3 separate regions of the Homo sapiens genome follow, and regions 1 and 3 are each linked to region 2. The links come from fine-mapping of genetic effects on gene expression. A gene starts in region 2. Each other region holds a variant in brackets. All regions are shown on one strand. Distances are from middle to middle.

Region 1 (2,774 bases), 100 kb after region 2:
ATCATATGTGATTTGGGGGAGGTCTGGGTTCAGTCATTCAACATTATATTTATGACATTCATCCAGTGTGTAGTTGTAGTTTGTTCGTTCTCATTGTTGTATAATATTCCATTGCTTAAATGTATCACAAATATCCATTCTACTGTTGGTGGACATGTGGATTTTTACAGTTTGGGGTATTACAAATAACGTTGATATGAACATTTTTGTATATTTCTTCTTGTGAAGTTTTAGGGCTATTACAATGATGCTACTTATTAACATTCTTGTCCACTTCTGGTGAAAAGAATATATATGTATTCATAGGTATATATACAACAGAAATGCTTATATATACACATTAGTGTGTGTACACAAATATATGTATTTGTATGTATGTATGAGGTTGGTACAAAAGTAATTGCTGTTTTTGCCATTAAAAACAGCAATTACTTTTGTACCAAGTTTATACGCACATATTTATATCTTGTCCACGTTTGGTGAACATATATATATATATATGAGGGCGATGAACATATGTATAGATAAGATGAACATATATACATGAGGAAAATGAGTATATATATAGTTTGGTGAACATATATATATATTCACCAACAGAAGTGCACAAGATATATACATAAACATTCCTGTTGTATATATACCTAAGCGTGAACTTGCTGGATAGTAACATGCTCCATTACAATGCTCAACACTTTTCCTAAGTAGTTGTACCAATATACATTCCCAAAAGTGTGGAAGATTTCCAACTTCTCCATATTCTTGCCAATACTTGGTTCATTATTTTTTCACTTTAATCATTTTGCTAAATGTGACATTGTCCAGTAATTTTTGAGGGATTTAAAAATCCTGTGAGTGGAGGAGACAGAAGTTAGAATATCACTCTACATTGATTAAAGTTGTAGTATGGTGATCTAGAGTTTTATGGGATTCATAAAATAACTTCTTAAAAATAAAAAGACTTAGAGATGGAAGAAATCTGTTATTTTCTGACTCCCAACAAGTTACTGCCTTCCTGGGAGAGGGGTTAATTCTGTTTGTATTATGCAGTGTAATGAAGAATCCTGTCAGGTTGGTTAGGATACCCAGCTGATTTGAACCCTACCTCCTCTTTATATTTAAATCCCAGTATTTGGTAAAGTCAAGTCTATAAGGTTTTAAGATGTTATTTCTGATACATTATGCAATTTAAATATTACTGCTCTTACCTAGAATAGAGTCTGCAAATTTATGGCACAGATTCTTACCATTCCCCATCCCCATCAGGCACATGACAGATGATGTGAATCACAGAAGACTTTCCCACTGATTTCTATGAGGTCTCAGGGTTGTTTTTTTCCTCACTATACTGCTCCACACAATCACACTGTTGGTTAGAAGTGTCATGGAAGATTCAAACACTTTTGCCTCCTGTACCTCAAGGTACAAGGTAATTTGCTGAATCTTACAATCTTCCCAAGTATTATTGTTGGTTGTCCCTGTAGGAGACTGATTGAAATTTAGGAGGCCGAGGTGGGTGGATCACCTGAGGTTGGAAGTTTAAGACCAGCCTGACCAACATGGAGAAACCCCATCTCTACTAAAAATACAAAATTAGCCAGGCATGGTGGCACATGCCTGTAATCCCAGCTACTTGGGAGGCTGAGGCAAGAGGCAAGAGAACTGCTTGAACCTGGGAGGCAAGAGAATTGCTTGAACCTGGGAGGCAGAGCCGAGATCTCACCATTGTACTCCAGCCTGGACAATAAGAGCAAAACTCCATCTCAA[GAA/G]AAAAAAAAAAAGCTATAATTTAAATCTATTATGTTGTCATACTAACTGAGGAGCTGGTTTACTTGTAGTTTAAGTTTAATTCTGTTTAGTTTTAAAATTTTCTTCTTCCTTTATATTTTAATTTTTTAATCTTTTATTTTCATTTGGACTAGGGAAAATTCTGAGAAGATTGCTATAGCTTCATAGGTCAAAGTAATTTAGGGGAAGTGGGTGACAGAGGAGGAAAGATGATACAAATGGATTAAGCATGAATAGGCCAGGCGCAGTGGCTCACGCCTGTAATCCCTGCACTTTGGGAGGCCAAGGCGGGCGGATCATTTGAGGTCAGGAGTTCGAGACCAGCCTGGCCAACATGGTGAAACCCCGTCTTTACTAAAAATACAAAAAATAGCTGGGCCTGGTGGCAGACACCTGTAATCCCAGCTACTCTGGAGGCTGAGGCAAGAGAATCGTTTGAACACAGAAGGTGGAGGTTGTAGTGAGCCAAGATCGCACCATTACGCTCCAGCCTGGGCAACAGGGCGAGACTCCGTTTCAAAAAAAAAGCATGAATTCTGACAATTTAGGGGCTCGCTGGAGAGTATGTAGCTTTAAAGGTCTGTAAGGTTCTGGAATGTGTTGGATGTGTTGATTATGGTATGATATAGATTGATAATAGCATGTTGCTTGAAATTCAAATTTAAAAAATATGGCAATGAATTAAAGATAGGGGTTTTCAAAGAAGAAAGTTAAAGAAAGAGTTATGTCTTTAAAAATGTTTGGCCATGCTGAGAAAACAAAGGTGATAATTAAAATCTAAGGTAAAAGATAATTAAAACATGAGGCAGAAACAGAAAGGAAGGAAGGATGGATAGATAGATAAGAGTTTGGCAGTAGTGGATGAAACCAGAGATCTAAGGAAAAGGAAGTCAGGAAATAAGCTTTAGCATTAGTAGTTTATGCTGAATGTCATACTCCTAACTCCAAGCCTTACAAGATGTGTAAGGCATTCACTTGCCTCTGTA
Region 2 (2,774 bases):
CAGTTCATCTGCCTGTGGGCAGCTTCATTGAAGCAAGTTAATTTTGCAGGCTTGCCATTCTAATTGAGTCACTAATTCATGTATGCATATATTCATTTATTCAGCAAACATTTACTGAGAGCCTCCTATGGGCCTGGCACTGAAGTATGTGCTGAGGTTACAAAAATGAGTAAGATGGTTTCTACCCATAAAAAGCTCAGACTGGTGACAAGAACTGATATATTGTGGTGATGGCTGCACAACTCTTTGAGTACACTAAAAACCATTTAATTGTACAATTTAAATTGGTAGATTGTATGCTATGTAAATTATATCTCAAAACTGTTTAAAAGAAACACAGCCTGAGGCGAAATCTTTAAAAAGTTACCTAGGTGATGTAGGGTACGGTACACACGAAGCAGAGAAGATAGAATGAACCAAGTTATGGAGGTGAGAAACGTGTGTGTGTGTGTGTGTGTGTGTGTGTGTGTGTGTGTGTTGTGGGGGAGGTAAGCTGGGAAGTGATAAAATCCGTAATCAGATTTGTTTTAGATAAACCACACCGACAGCTGTGACGTAATGGAAAGTACACTCATTCTGTTTTGTTTTTGTTTTTTTTTCCTATCAGAATAACTTGTGCGTGGGTCTTGGAGCTGCCATTTTAAAACTAGAAATGTTTTATAAATGTCAAGTATTATTATTCAATTGATCCTAATGGTAAGTCTACTCGCTTGCCAGCAGGGGGTAAATGTAGAGATTAATTTAAGATTTTAAAGCTAAGGTTGATCTTGCGCTGACAGAAAGTTTGACAATTAGCAAAAAAAGTTTGTCAGTGAGTTGGACACCTCCCTCGGGTAGCGGCGAAAACGCCTAGAGAATTTTTAAAATAAGTCTTTCCAAGGCCGGAAAAGTGGCGGAGGAAGCTAGTGGGTTTCAGGGTTCCTGTTTTTCAAGATTTTACGTTGGGTATTAAGTACTCTCACAGCCTGTTAAAATTGTCGCTCTGAGTACACTTGCAGGATCAAAAAAGAAAAAGAATAAGAAGGAAGGATTAAAATAATCACAGCATCGCCAACAGGATCGTATTTTCCCGAAGGTGGTTAACCAGCCATACCGGAACCACGAAACACACAGGGTCCTGGGCAACACGGAGGACTAACAGTAACACCGCCACGCCGGCAGCAAAGCTCATTTTGGTCCCCGCCCCGTTCCTCTTTCTCTTTTTAACTCCTTCCCTCTTTGCGGATTCTAGAACGGAACCTTTTTTTAATTCTTCCCAGTAGAAACGTAGGAACAATTTCGTGAACGCAATCCGGAGTGCCCAACATGGCGGCGGCCGTAAGGTGCATGGGTAGAGGTAAGGCGAGGGGTTGTCTTGCAGGGGAAATGGCTCTGGCACCGAGTCTCTGGTTGCAGCAGAGTGCAAGGCGGATTCTGCTCTGGGTGCTGAAAATGCCTCGTGCTGTTTCTGGTCTCTAGGTTTTTCAGAGGGTGGGTCATTACTACTTAAAAGTGACCTTATGAAGGGTTTCACTCCATTCTGGAGACGTCCACCCTGAGGGAGGGAGTGGGAGCGGGACGTACATCGAGCGCCCTCCAGCCACCTATGGGCATGGCAAGGACTGGGTCGTCTCTGATACTGGGGTGTGGGCTGCGGGTAGTGGAGTGTGATAAGTGAGGTGAGTTCTGATAAGGGAAAGATGATGTATTTGAGTGGCTTAAGTCTGTAAATTAGAGCAATTTTCAAAGTGCTTTTTGGTGCTTTCGGAATTACTTCGTTATAGGCGATTCCAGTTCTTAAACTTCCATAGGTGGTCTAATTTGGATCAACGTTTATCATTTGAGGGGGCTAATTCTGTAGTACCTCTTGGTAGCGCCTCTTTTCATCTTAATAATTTCAACTTTTTGTCTACGATGACAGCCCTTTCTTGTGCAACAATTTTTTTTTTTTTTTTTTTTTGAGACGGCAGTCTCGCTCTGCCACCCAGGCTGGGAGTGCTGTGGTGCGATCTCAGCTCACTGCAACCTCCGTCTCCCAGGTTCAAGCGATTCTCCTGCCTCGGCCTCCCGAGTAGCAGAGACTACAGGCGTGTGCCACCATGCCTGGCTAATTTTTGTATTTGTAGTAGAGACAGGGTTTCACCATGTTGACCAGGCTAGTCTTGCACTCCTAATCGCAGGTGATCCGCCCTCCTCGGCCTCTCAAAGTGCTGGGATTACAGGCGTGAGGCACTGCGCCCGGCCTGTGCAACGCTTTTTGCTTTTATTTTGTGTTTTTGAAGTCCAGTGATATATATTGTTTAATTTAGGTAGGTCTTTAGGTAGAAGCAGTAGCCAGCATTACCCCCATTTTACAGAGGAAGAAACTGAACTTATTAGATATGTGGCCAAGTTCATATAACTAGTAAATGGCAGAGGAAGTACTGAAGCTTGCAATCCTAGGTCAGTGATACATGTATATTTAACACTGCATCACAGTTTTTTTTTTTTTTTTTTTGAGTTTCTTTTTAGGAAAACTGTGTCAAGAGAGTTATTGCTCAAAAATTAGGGGTGACAAGAGATAACAACAGACCCTGATGCCTACTTTGTGAGCAAACCAAAATGTATATTATTTCTGAAAGGAGGTTGAAGGCATCTTCATGTATGACAGAAATCGTTATGTTACACAAATCCAAAGAAACCAAAAATACCTGAATATTATAATTTTCTTGTCACATTTTCTTCTCTTGGCTTCTAGGATATCTCTCTGTTAATTGTCTTCCTATTTCATGTGTCATTTTTTCTCACATTACTTG
Region 3 (2,774 bases), 120 kb before region 2:
CGTCTAGATATGTTTAGACTCAAATGCCATTGTATTACAATTGTCTATTTACTACAGTAACATGCTGTACAGGTTTCTAGCCTGGGAACAACAGGCTATACCTTATAGCCTAGGTGTATAGTGCTGTACCATCTAGGTTTGTGTAAGTGCACTTCATGATGTTCCCACAACAACAAAATCACCTAATGATGCATTTCTCAGAACATATTCCCGTAGTTAAGAGATACGTAGTTTTAATAGAATTATTCTAAAATGCATAAAAAATTACCAAACCATTAGAAGAATTTAGTATATTCTGACCTCAAATACTACAAGGCTTTGTACTAATTATTAACCAAAATAAGAATATCTCTACTACAAATTCATGGAAAAGACAGGAAAGTAGGCATAGATAAATGGGAAGTGGACCAAATATCTTTCAAATTCATTGAATTTGTTTACTTAAAATAGCATGTCATGCTGGTAATATGCTTGGATCAATAAAAACAGATTGGCTTTGGTAAAATAGATGTAAAATGGGGAAATACTGGAAAACAGCTGTAAGCATGTATATGCTTATCCTGTAAGATGATTTCCTAACGTATGAAATCCAAACTATTAACCATGGGATTCAACCTCTATCAGATGTCACGTTTCATTTTCCATTGCCCTGTCTCAGTCAACCCTTTTAACTCTCTACCTCCATATGCTCTGTGCCTGCCTCTCTTATCTACCCAGGCAGACCTCTATCTTATATTACACCATATGATATTGCAATTGTCTTATATGCCTAGTTTTTCCTACTGGATTTGAGCTTTCAGTGAGATTAGGAACTATGTCTTGACTATCTTTGTGTCTGTTGTGTCTAGCACAGGACTTATCACAAAGCAAATGCTCAGTATACATTTAGTGAATAAATGATTTTAAAATGAATGATTCTCAAAAATCAATTATTAAAAAAAAATCACAGAAAAGAAACCCAGATCACTTATGGCCAACCTTAAAAGGTATCACTTTCTTTTTTTACACAAAAACTAATACTTTACTTCATGAAAATATGTTCTGAAATATGAGACCATTCAAGTCTGTATCTCTTAAAATGTTCAGTGTTATTTGGTAATAAAAGCATAAGGA[A/G]TAATACAATAAATATCCTTATTTCGAATACACAGCCTGAGAAATGAAACATTAACAACAGTTTTAAGTTGCATAATACTTGTTTTCTAGCTTTCTGTTGATTTTATAGGGCAAAACCAAAGACAATTTTAAAGTGTAAGCATTTAAATAAATAAAAGTACACCATTGTGCTTTGTTTCCTTAACTTACTTTTCTGTTTTGAAGAATATTGCACAACCATCTACATGCTTTCTCTCCTGCTCAGACATGATTTTGGCACGTGACTTTGGAGAAAAAAATCCATCATATCCACGCTCCTTCAATGCTGGCAGAAAGAGAGTGAAGTATTGCTCTGTTTCCACTTCCTGAGATGAAAGAAAAGTTATCATCTATATGACAGAGGGAAAATGCTGATTAAGATATAAAAATGTTCAGCATTATGAGTAAGATGTAACTTAGTAAAAATAATTCACATAGCAAATATTATCTTACTATCTTACCTGATTGCTAGCAGCTGCTACTTGACAATGGCAGCTTTTTAAACATGAAAGAACCAGAAAGGTGACATGATTTTCTCATGCTCACACAGATAGTAACAGGAGTAGGACTACATCCCAAGGTCTCTTGATTCCCAATTTACAGTTCACTCCATTATACTTTACTTCCTCAAGACTGGCAACTAAACAAAGCAAGTTGGGTATATGATAGATTCTGTGATAGGGAATAGTAATTTATATATAAAAAGGTAATTTAAAAACTTGCATATCCTTCTGAACTATGGTGGAAAGAAATGATACCCAAGAGTGAGAAACGTAAAATCTATCCACAAAAAATTCTACTTTAAGAAATTTTTAAGTACCTAAATCGCAATCATCCAATGGCCTCTATTAATTTAATAATTATTAGTCTATTTTATTCTTTGACTCATAAAATATTTTAACAGGTCTTTCTAAATGAAATAAATATGAAGATAATTTATGTATGCAGATGTTTCTAACAGCATGAGTTTATGACAGCAAAAACCCATAAACAACTAAATGTGTCCAATGGTATGGGAAAAGCTACATCAATATACGTTCATATAATTAATGAGTTTTGAAGAATTTTAGTAACATGGAAAATCCATTAAGTACAATAAATAAGAATCAAAATGTATCTGTAAATATATTTTACTTAATGTATAGAAGAAAAATACTCCAGAAGTTTTAACACAACTATCTTATGACATGAAATTAGGTATTTCCCTCCATCATGCTTTATATTTTTTCAAAATTTTCAACTTCTCTAGAATGATCTCTTTTTAATACAGTATAGTATTATAGCATTGCTTTTATAATAAGACAATTTTCTTAAATTATGTTCTATCCTTCAAACTGCTATATTTAGGAGGGTGTGAGGCTGTTATCACTACAAATACTAAACCAAGAAGTAGACAAGAAACTACAATAGCCTGATTTTGTTTGCCGCCTCCTCTCCCCAATTCTCTGTTAGTCTCAGTATTTAGAAGAAATTTTATTTTAATTTTAAAAGATTTTTACTTTTTTCCCAAGCAACCTAAAAATAAATTATCAAGCTACTCTGTTACATAAAAAAATTTTTAATAATTTTTCCTCTCAGGCTATGATGAAAAGAATGTGTGAAATTGTAACACACAACTTTTTTTTTTTTTTTTTTTTTTTTTT

Direction of the effects. Positions count from the first base shown, and alleles are read on the strand shown. Sizes are in standard deviations (SD) of each study's normalised expression.
For the expression in monocytes of the gene that starts at base 1,287 in region 2, G is the high allele of the variant in region 1 and GAA is the other (large effect, 1.4 SD a copy in BLUEPRINT).
For the expression in whole blood of the gene that starts at base 1,287 in region 2, allele G in region 3 goes with a higher level than allele A (moderate effect, 0.61 SD a copy in GTEx).

The links. PIP is the estimated chance that this variant, and not a neighbour inherited with it, causes the effect.
Region 1: its variant is the best candidate, but not a certain one, in a credible set for the expression of MRPL1 in monocytes (BLUEPRINT, PIP 0.55).
Region 3: its variant is the best candidate, but not a certain one, in a credible set for the expression of MRPL1 in whole blood (GTEx, PIP 0.53).

Annotation. Positions count from the first base shown.
Region 1 is chr4:77,964,943-77,967,716 of GRCh38, forward strand. No RefSeq gene overlaps it. Among named protein-coding and RNA genes, the nearest start is that of FRAS1, 91 kb to the right of the region's middle. The variant GAA/G (reference allele first, on the strand shown) is at 1,768.
Region 2 is chr4:77,861,544-77,864,317 of GRCh38, forward strand. It overlaps MRPL1 (mitochondrial ribosomal protein L1), which reads left to right and starts at 1,287. Exons shown (of 9, transcript NM_020236.4): 1 at 1,287-1,336. The coding sequence starts at 1,306. RefSeq lists enhancers at 975-1,374, 1,735-1,834.
Region 3 is chr4:77,740,839-77,743,612 of GRCh38, forward strand. CNOT6L (CCR4-NOT transcription complex subunit 6 like) reads right to left here. Exons shown (of 12, transcript NM_144571.3): 8 at 1,303-1,457. Among named protein-coding and RNA genes, the nearest start is that of CNOT6L, 77 kb to the right of the region's middle. The variant A/G (reference allele first, on the strand shown) is at 1,114.